Linked DNA regions of Homo sapiens: region 2 is linked to region 1. The links come from fine-mapping of genetic effects on gene expression. A gene starts in region 1. The other region holds a variant in brackets. All regions are shown on one strand. Distances are between the middles of the regions. Region 1 holds the start of TTC34 (tetratricopeptide repeat domain 34). Region 2 has its middle 34 kb from the start of TTC34.

What was found. PIP is the estimated chance that this variant, and not a neighbour inherited with it, causes the effect.
Region 2: its variant is the best candidate, but not a certain one, in a credible set for the expression of TTC34 in tibial artery (GTEx, PIP 0.63).

Annotation. Positions count from the first base shown.
Region 1 is chr1:2,799,450-2,803,825 of GRCh38, reverse strand. It overlaps TTC34 (tetratricopeptide repeat domain 34), which reads left to right and starts at 2,133. Exons shown (of 9, transcript NM_001242672.3): 1 at 2,133-2,249; 2 at 2,958-3,782. The coding sequence starts at 2,999.
Region 2 is chr1:2,833,012-2,837,387 of GRCh38, reverse strand. No RefSeq gene overlaps it. Among named protein-coding and RNA genes, the nearest start is that of TTC34, 34 kb to the right of the region's middle. The variant G/A (reference allele first, on the strand shown) is at 2,589.

The DNA of each region.
Region 1 (4,376 bases):
GGCGTGGGAACCAGGCCCTTTCATTTCTGCAAGTCTGAGTGCAAGGAGTGAGGGGGTCGTTGCTGGGTGCTGACTCGGAGTCCTGCCCCTCCCTCCACCCAGCCAGGTCCGACCACATAAACGGGGGCAGCCAAGCAGGCTCAGAGCAGGAGGAGCGGCTCCCAGGGCGTCGGAAGCAGCTCCTGGGCTCTTCGCAGGGGTCTGTAAGGACAAGTAGTTGTTGTGGGTCCAGTCAGGGCTGAATGCTTCCATCACCCTCAAACCCTGTTTCCCCCTGAAGCGTCAGATGAGCCAGCTCCCTACGCTGTCAGTGCGCTAATGGTCTTGAATGGGAAAGTGTGCAGAGGGCAAATGAGCAGTATCCCCCGCCCCCCGCTAGCCTCAAGTTGGAAATGTTGGAAATCCTTTTGACTCATAAACTAAAGCAGCACAAACCCGAACACGAGACCCTGAGACTACCAGGCACCGGCCTCGGCCTCCCTGTCCGGCTCAGCCGCCCACTTTTGTCTGTGGCAGAATCAGAGACGAGAGTGCGGATTGGGAGGTGGCGTGGAGGCGGCCCTGGGATTACCTGCATCCAGGTGTGCTGCTCTCAGGCAGGGGCTGTGATCATAGCTCGGGACCCTCCGAGACTTCCAGGCTCATCTGGCCAGTGCCTGTGGGCCCCGGGCAGGGCACTGTGCACAGGGCAGAGACGCAGGGGGCCCATCGGCACTGCTGTGATGGCAACTGTCGCGCAGACCTGCCACCTCTGTGCCCCGGGCTCTTCTACAGCCCTGGTGACAGCCCCACTCCATTACAGCTCTCGCCTAATTAGGGCAATTAAAATGAAAGTAATCAACACCGAGTAATGGGCAATCTCTTAATAAACTGCCCCCACTGCATTACCCGCACAGGCCTTGGGCCCTGGTGAATGTCATGGAGCTGAAGAACTGGGCCAGGCAGCCCCAGCCCTGCTGACCCCCCTGCCCTGCACCCTCAGACTGACCCTGACTGCTCTGCCCACGCTGCAGGGGCTCCACACCCTCCCCAAAGGGCCTGCGGGGCATGTCTCAGGAGACCCAGACATCGAGGGGATCAGGGATGCCACCCCCCACTCCCAAGATCTCCTCCCCCAAAGGGCACCCCCAACCCTGCTTCCCTGAGCCCCACAGAGGAGCCAGCATTGGCCTGGTGTCCGGGCACCTTGGCATCCTGAATTGGGAGGGACCTCTCTCAGGGACGCACCACCCCCATTCCCCCCACTCATGCCTGCCCTCCAGGGCAGCTGCCGGTGGTGGGGTCTCAGCTTCAGGGACCTGAGCCTGCCTCCAGCCACCCCACTCAGTCTTTCTGCTCCTGCGGCATGGGCTGACGGTGGCCACGGGCTGAAGGTGATGTTTCCTAAAATAGTCCCTATGCTGCCACCCCTTCCTCAGCAACAATCAGGGTCCCTGGGCAGTAGGCTCAGGTCATGGCTCCCAGAGCTGCCTCTGGGCCTCAACCCTGTGATGGGGGAGGGGTGTGCCCTCGGCTAATGTGCCCTGCCCTCCCCAGGGCACAGCTGGCTCAGCTGGTGCAGGCAGGACAGGGCTGCCTAAGCCTCTCAGAGGGAGGACGGCCAAGGGAAATGGGCTGGCTGTGCACGGAAGGTCCAGTCCCAGCTGCCGGCACAGGGAACAGCCTGTGGGGAGGTGCCCCAGGACCGGGTGACAGGGCCCTGCCAGAAGAGGAGTGAGGCTGGGCGGTGAGGGGCCCGCATAGCAGCCCAGGCGGAGTTCTGGGGGACAAACCCAGAGCCTGAGTGCACTGGGTGGGCAGGCGGCCCCCACCTGCCTCCAGGAAGCGCCCTCCTCATCTATGTGGAGAGGAGGCTGGGGGCACCCTGGCAGAGCAGGCAGGGTGGAGGCTGGCCCCGGCTATGGGGGGCTGTACCCCACAGGCCCCTTCTCCCCCAACACCCCCATGAACTCAGGGTTCTCTGCTCTGAGGCAGCCCATTGGAGCCTGGCTGGGGCAGTGTGGGTGGGACCTCGGCCTGGTAGCCTCTGGCCACAGCGGGGCGCTGCAGGACAGCCAGGAGACCCAAGGGTGTTGACACTCTCCCGGGAAACCGCAGGCTGTGCCTTCCCCAACCCACACGGGGCGGTCATAGGAGCCCCACCCAGGCCTGGGCCCTCCAGCCAGCCACATCCCTCTGTCCCCCACCACCCACGAGGGAATCTGGGTCCCCAGGGCACAGCCGGCTCAGCCTCCAAGCTGCAGACGAGTGTGAGTGTGTCTGTGTGTGTCTGAGAGCGGATGCTGGGGGCTGCCTGTTTGATGAGGGAAGAAAGGGCTGTGCGGAGCTAGTTCGTCAGGTCAAGTAGCTTGGGGACAGGGAATAGGGGAGTACCAGGGGCTGTCCCTGGAACCTCAACCTCAAAACTGAACCCCCCCACCCATGGGCTGGGGTGGCTCCCCCGACCCAAGGGCCTGGCAGGTGCTCTCGGCGCCCCCCTCGAATGGCCCAGGTGTGAGAGGGTGGGCAGGGGTGTGGTCCTGCGTCCCACTGAGAGGGCTGCCTGGACTGACGGGGGGTGTGCCTTCCTGAGGGGCTCAGGGTTGGGAGGGGCAGAGGGTGGGTCCGGGGTTCCTATTGCTGGGCCCTGACACCTCGGGCCACCGTAACCCTCCCGACATGGACACTCAGGGGTCAGATGTTCTTAGAGGGAACTGAGCTGGGGGAGGCCACTGTCCCATTCTGCAAGGCACGAAACTGAGGCCCCAGAGGTGAACAGTGGGCTGGAAGTTGGCCTGGGACACCTGGTAGGCCCCACCCCACCAGCCCAGGATCCCCCCAGTTTTCACCCAGTGGGGTCTGCACTGACCGTGGGGTCAATGGGAAGGGGTGGAGGTGGCTTGAGGCTGGGCACGGGTGGCCACAGGGCAGGAGAACTGGCCGCCCTCTGTGGACTCACCATGCTCCCCCACCCCCAGGTACTCTGAGGACCAGACATGGGCCCGTCGGGGTCCCAGACATGATGTCAGCCCAGGAGCTCGTGGCCTGCCTCTGCCGGGAGGGGGAGCAGCATCTGGCGCTGGGGGAGCTGCCCCTGGCCACCGCCTTCTACCTGGCTGCATTCAGCTGCCACGCCCCCTCAGCCCTGCAGAGTGTGCGCACTGCCCTGGCCCAGGCTCGGGGGGCGGCGGTGGTGGCCACCCTGGAGTCCTGGTGCCGCGGGGACAGCCAGATCCCCGCCATCCACTGGGACGGCATGGCAGTGGTCTCCCTGACAGGGTCGCTGGCCTCTGCCTTCCTCGGCGCCCTCTGCCCGGACCACCCCGCCGCCATCCTGCACCTGCTGGCAGGTCTGCTGGCCCGCGGGCGTCACGAAGAAGTGGTGCAACGCTGCAGCGCCCTGCTGGACTCTCATGCACAGCAAGTCCTGGAGCTGCGGCTGACCCGCGCCCTCGCCTGGGTCCTGTCCGGGGTGCAGGCAGCGGATGGTGTGGCCGCCTATCTCCAGGCCTTCGCCTCCAGCGCCGACCGGACGGTAGCTTTCATTCGCACCCACCAGCGGCCCCACCTCCCCGCGCTGCTCAGTGCCCTCCAGGACTACCTCTCGGGGCACCCGGAGGCTGGGCACAGTGCCGGCCAGCAGGAGACCGGTGGCCAGCGACTCCTGGCGGCTCTGGACCCCAGGGGCACCCGGAGTGACACCCTGTCACCTGAAGCTCTGCTCCACAGCGGCAGGTTTGAGGACTGCCTGGCAGCATGCAGCCGGGCCCTCGAGGCCCATCCCACCGGCAGCGAACCCCAAGGTAGGAGGACGGCATGGCCCCTGCAGAGCCAGGGTGAAAGCTGCCCCCGCCACTCCCTCCCCACATGGTTATGTCCTGCCATGATGGGGTGAGGCTGTGCTGGGGCTGGGGTGCCTCAGTGACAAGAAAGTCAGGCCCTGCCCCTTTGGAGCACCCAAAGACACAAACAAAATGCATGCTTTAAGAAATGGGATGGGCAAGGTACTGCTCCAGCCGGTGATCAGGGAAAGCTTCTCAGGAGAGGAATCATTTAGGCTGAGAGTGAGGGTTCCAGGCAGCAGAAGCAAATGTGCCAAGTCCTTAGGGGAGCAAGAGCTTGGGCTCCCCCTGCCACTGAGGGGGCCAGGGCGACTGTCGGAGGGAAGGGGAAAACGAATGGGAGACTGAAGATGGCAGCTGTGGGGCTAGATCCTCCTGGCCTCCCAAGGCCCTTGGATGTTACCCTCAGTCTGTGAGGCTGAGCTGTGGAGTGAGGTACTCTGAGCTGCATTTTTTTTTTTGAGATGGAGTTTCATTCTTGTTGCCCAGGCTGGAGTGCAATGGGGCGATCTCGGCTCACCGCAACCTCCACCCACTGGGTTCAAGAGATTCTCT
Region 2 (4,376 bases), 34 kb before region 1:
CCTGATGCTCTATCACTGTCTCCCCTTACCCACAGACGGGACCATCTAGTTGCAGGAAAACAAGCTCAGGGCTCCCACTGATTCTACATGACAGTGAGTTGTAGAATTATTTCATTAGATATTACAATGTAATCATCATAGAAATAAAGTCCAAATAAATGCAATGCCCTTGAATCATCCCCAAACCATCCCCCACCCTCCAGATCCATAGAAAAATTGTCTTCCGCAAAACCCGTCCTGGGTGCCAAAAAGGTTGAGAACCACTGAATTAAAAGGTTCACTAACAAGGGCGGAAGAGAATGCTGTTTTATTTCTGACAGGATCAGCTGCAGGTTATTCAATGTCCTCAACAAATCCCTCAAGTCAGGCACAGCCGTTATGGAAATCAGATTTTTTAACATGACCAAAGTCAGAAAAAAATACTCGTGCCTCATCCCCTCACATCACACAGATTGCACGGGGTACCCCATCTGGAGAAGAGCTGAATATTCCATCTTTTGGAGCAGCAGGCCTCAAAGATAAATACTCTTGACTACAGCAAGGCCTTGTGTCGCTTTTCCAGACATGGCTTCCCCTCTGCAGTGGGCTGGGAGGGGCTGTGCTGGCCTCTTGTCTCTGTGAATCAATCCCTGTGTTCGCTGCATTCCGGGCCCTCCTGCTCTGGGCCCTCCTGGCGGCACAGTGGTCCTCCCCAAAAGAGGTCAAGCCAATGAAATGTCCTTGCTTCTATCACCAGTTTCGGGAGACAATGGGACAAATGGTTTTGAAGCACTCCCAAGTCACCCAGGGCCAGACACTAATTCACATCTGCCCCGTAGTGGATTCTAAGTACAGACTCGACCTCCCGGCCGAGGCAGGTGCCATCGATCCTCCAACTCACGCAGACTCGGTGCTGGGCGCCTCTGCGCTGTCCTCGGCTGTTACCTTTGTGGTCTGTTCTAGGACCTTCTCAGTAGCCACGCAGCGTGAATGCCCATTCTGTGCAATTCTGAGTGGAATCACTTCTCTACCTTTCGCAGCAAAATTCTTCCACTTAAACCTAAAAAGCATTTTGCAGTTGTTCTAGGGGAAGAAAATGATTTTATCTGGAGGTTCCTGAGCTTTAAAAAAAAAAAAAAAAAAAAGAGATGCAAAAGCTTCAAGGGCCCCCTGCCTATATTTGACAAAGTTTCCTAGCAGATAATGCCCCGGGGGTCAGGGAGATGGATCTCGGCCCCCGCAGGCCTCACAGCCGCTGTGCAGCCCTTCAGAAGAAAACAGTTATTATTTGCATAATGGGATTTCTGCAGAAATCATAATTAATCTTAAATTTCACATTAGTGAATATATCTGAACCAAATTGCTCCAGCACTTTTTCTTCTGAAACCACCACGCTGCCTGAAGACCACTTGAAAGTGGCTGGAGCCCCCCAGGGGTCCATGACTGCCCTTCAGGAGACCCTGTCTGAGGCAGAGAGAGAGGGGGCGAGGCTGCAGGGTGCTAGGGGAGGGGCGCGGCTGGCAGTGGTGGGGAAGGGCACAGGAGGGGCAGCCTGGCCGAGGGGGTTTTAGGGACTATATGGATTTTATTAGCAGGGTATAGGGTAGCAGAACTGGGGGGCCGAGTGGCCGCTGTGTGGGAGGGGGAGCTGCCCAGCCAGGTGTGGGACCACCACTGAGCCACTCTTGTTTGGACAATGACTTGGAAATTACCCCTGCTCGACGCTTGAAACCTTAAGGTGAGATTTAAAGGGACTGGGGGCATTGAGACCATTCTCAGTGGGGGCCACTTGATGTTTTTCCAGATGACCTCCTGGGTTCAGGGGGCCTCCGGCTTGAGTGTCTAATGACTCCCAGGGGCTGGCCCCCCACTCCTCCATTGTACAGTCCCTGCCCCAGCCCCACCAACCAGGCAAGTGTCCCAGGACCTGGCCTGGAAACCTGGGTCCAAACCCACTATCGTGGCTGTCAGAACCCGGGATCCCCGGGGCCTTGTGCCCCAGCCACACAGCTGGCTCAGCCAGAGAAGGCCAAGTTTCTAGAAGGCACTAGATGGTGGACTGCAGTGGGGGCAGGCGGCACTGGCTGCCGGGGCGAGGTCGGCCCTGGTTCGGGGCGAGGGCAGTGCACAGAGCCCCCTTTCTCCTCTCTGCCCACCCCATGGAACAGTGGAGACATGTCCAAGTTCTCCAAGGAGGTCTGCCTGTACCAGCTCCGGATCCCTGCGTGGCCGCACCTCCCGGCAAAGCCTCTTTGTCCACGGCTTCCTGGCAGGGCCCCTACTGCAGACTCCTGTTCTGTAAACACCTCACAGCCTCCGACCCCCGACTCCCTCTGGCTCCCACCTCCCCCTCCCACTCTCTGTACCCACAAACTTCCCCTGGGCACCCACTGTTCTGGGCACGCTGGCGTTTGGGGGAAGCACGCACAGGCCCGGCCCAGGGCCTGCCCAGGAAAAGCTGAGGCAAGGATGGCAATAACCGTCCTCCTAGCTCGAAGCGATGGCTGGGAAGTGGCCCGGCCCCTCCATGCCTGGTGTCCTTATCTCTAAGCGGGGAGGAAAGGTGTCCCCCTCAGAGGCTGTTTGGTGGAGCAGCGGAGATGCCACTG[G/A]GGTGAGGCATTTTTCCTGATATTTTCCCTGGGGCCGGGGAGGCATTCTCAGGGGCAGCCCAGAGCAGTGCGGTCAGCCCCCCAGAGCCCTGGGCCACACAGGACAGCGCTCAGGCCACTTCAACAGCGAAATCAGCAACAAGAAACGCACAAAGCAAGAAACACGTACTAAATCGACCTCGAGAAAGAGGCTTGCTTGGCACTGGGTACACGTCCGGGTGACCTCAGGGCACTGGGAGTATGTATTTGGAGACCACCCATAGCTTTCATCACATAGACAAATTGGTAAATGTGGAATCCGTGAATGAGGATCAACTGTACTAAAAACAAATCACTGAATTGTACGCTTTGAAAGGGTGATTGGTGACTTACACCTGGAATGCGACATACGACACGACGCAGCCCTGCCCCGAGAGCCGGGAAACAACCCAACACACCTGCAGTGGGAACGGAGACTCCTGGGGGCCCCACGGCACCGCTGCTCACCCCAGCACCTCCCAGATCCTGGGGCAGGAGCCACTGCTTCTCCATCAAACCCGCCCTCTGACCACTCCACAGCACAGTCCCCTTCGGGCGGCACACACAGGGAGGGCAGGAAGAGCAGGACAGGCACACCGAGGCAGAGCCCGAGGCTGGTTCCAGGGAATAGGTAGCATGGACACGGGGCTAGGGGAGGCGGTGAGGGGCTGGGAGGCAGGAAGACCTGGCAGAGGGAGCCCCCTGAGCACAGTCAGAGGGAGACATGGGGTGGAGTTGCATGGGATGAGGAGAAGCCCCGATGCCCGGGATGGCCCTAGTTTGCACTCACTGTCCCAGCCAACGAACAGCTTCCCCCACTCTCAAAAGCACCCCAGTCTCGGCAAACGATTCTCTGGCAATCCTGCAAAAGGGCAGCATGCATGGCTACAGCACAGTGCCGGGGTGCACGGTGGAGGGGAATAGGGCTCTCCCTCTTTCCGGGGGGGTCTTTAGCTGAAGGGGCTTCAGCCAAAACATGGACCCTGTTTCCTTCCCCACTGGAGGCAGAGGGGCCATACCTGGTCCCCCGGAGGCAGCAGCACCCTGCCTGCCATCTGAGAGACACCTGTGTTGCTTGTCTGACATCCGCTGTGAAGAGTCAGGGGAGCCTCGGTGCTGCCTGGGGAGGATGGCACAGGAAGCCCCAGTGGGGCAGCTTCCCGCCTTCGACTCTGCCCCCACCCTCTGCATCGCAGCACTCCCAGCACCTGGCCAGGATGGGAAAACATTGCAGACAGTCACCAGGGACCATCCTCTGCACGCGCTCCCTCCCGGCCTCGAGTGACTCTATTAGAGAGAGTATGTTTTATTAATATCAGATATTAAAGTTTAATACTGTGATTGCAGGGGAAAAATGGGACTTCACCTTCAAGGAGTATTAGCGGATTCCAAAGAGAGTCTGTGAGCGGGAGGCACATTTGTCACAGCTTTGCAGGATGGGCGCCCCCATCCATCACACCCTTGGTGAGCTCTCCACGCTGCTGGCGGTGGCCACGGGGTGAGTGTCGCGACCCCGTCTGGTGCTCCCACCGGGTCAGCTCCCACCCCAGGGGTCTGGGGCCACCAGGAGAGGAAGTGTAGGTGAGGCAGGGGCACCAAGACCCCAGAGAGGGGGCTACAGACTCTGCATCCTGCACCTCTGGGTATATGGCTGGGACAGAGGCCGACCCCCTTCACTGGCCCCTGATTTTATGCAGGGAGCTCTGTGGGGCCCCCTGGGGCCTTGCCTGAGCCCCCAGCCTGGAGCGTACATCCGTGGCCCCCAGTTCA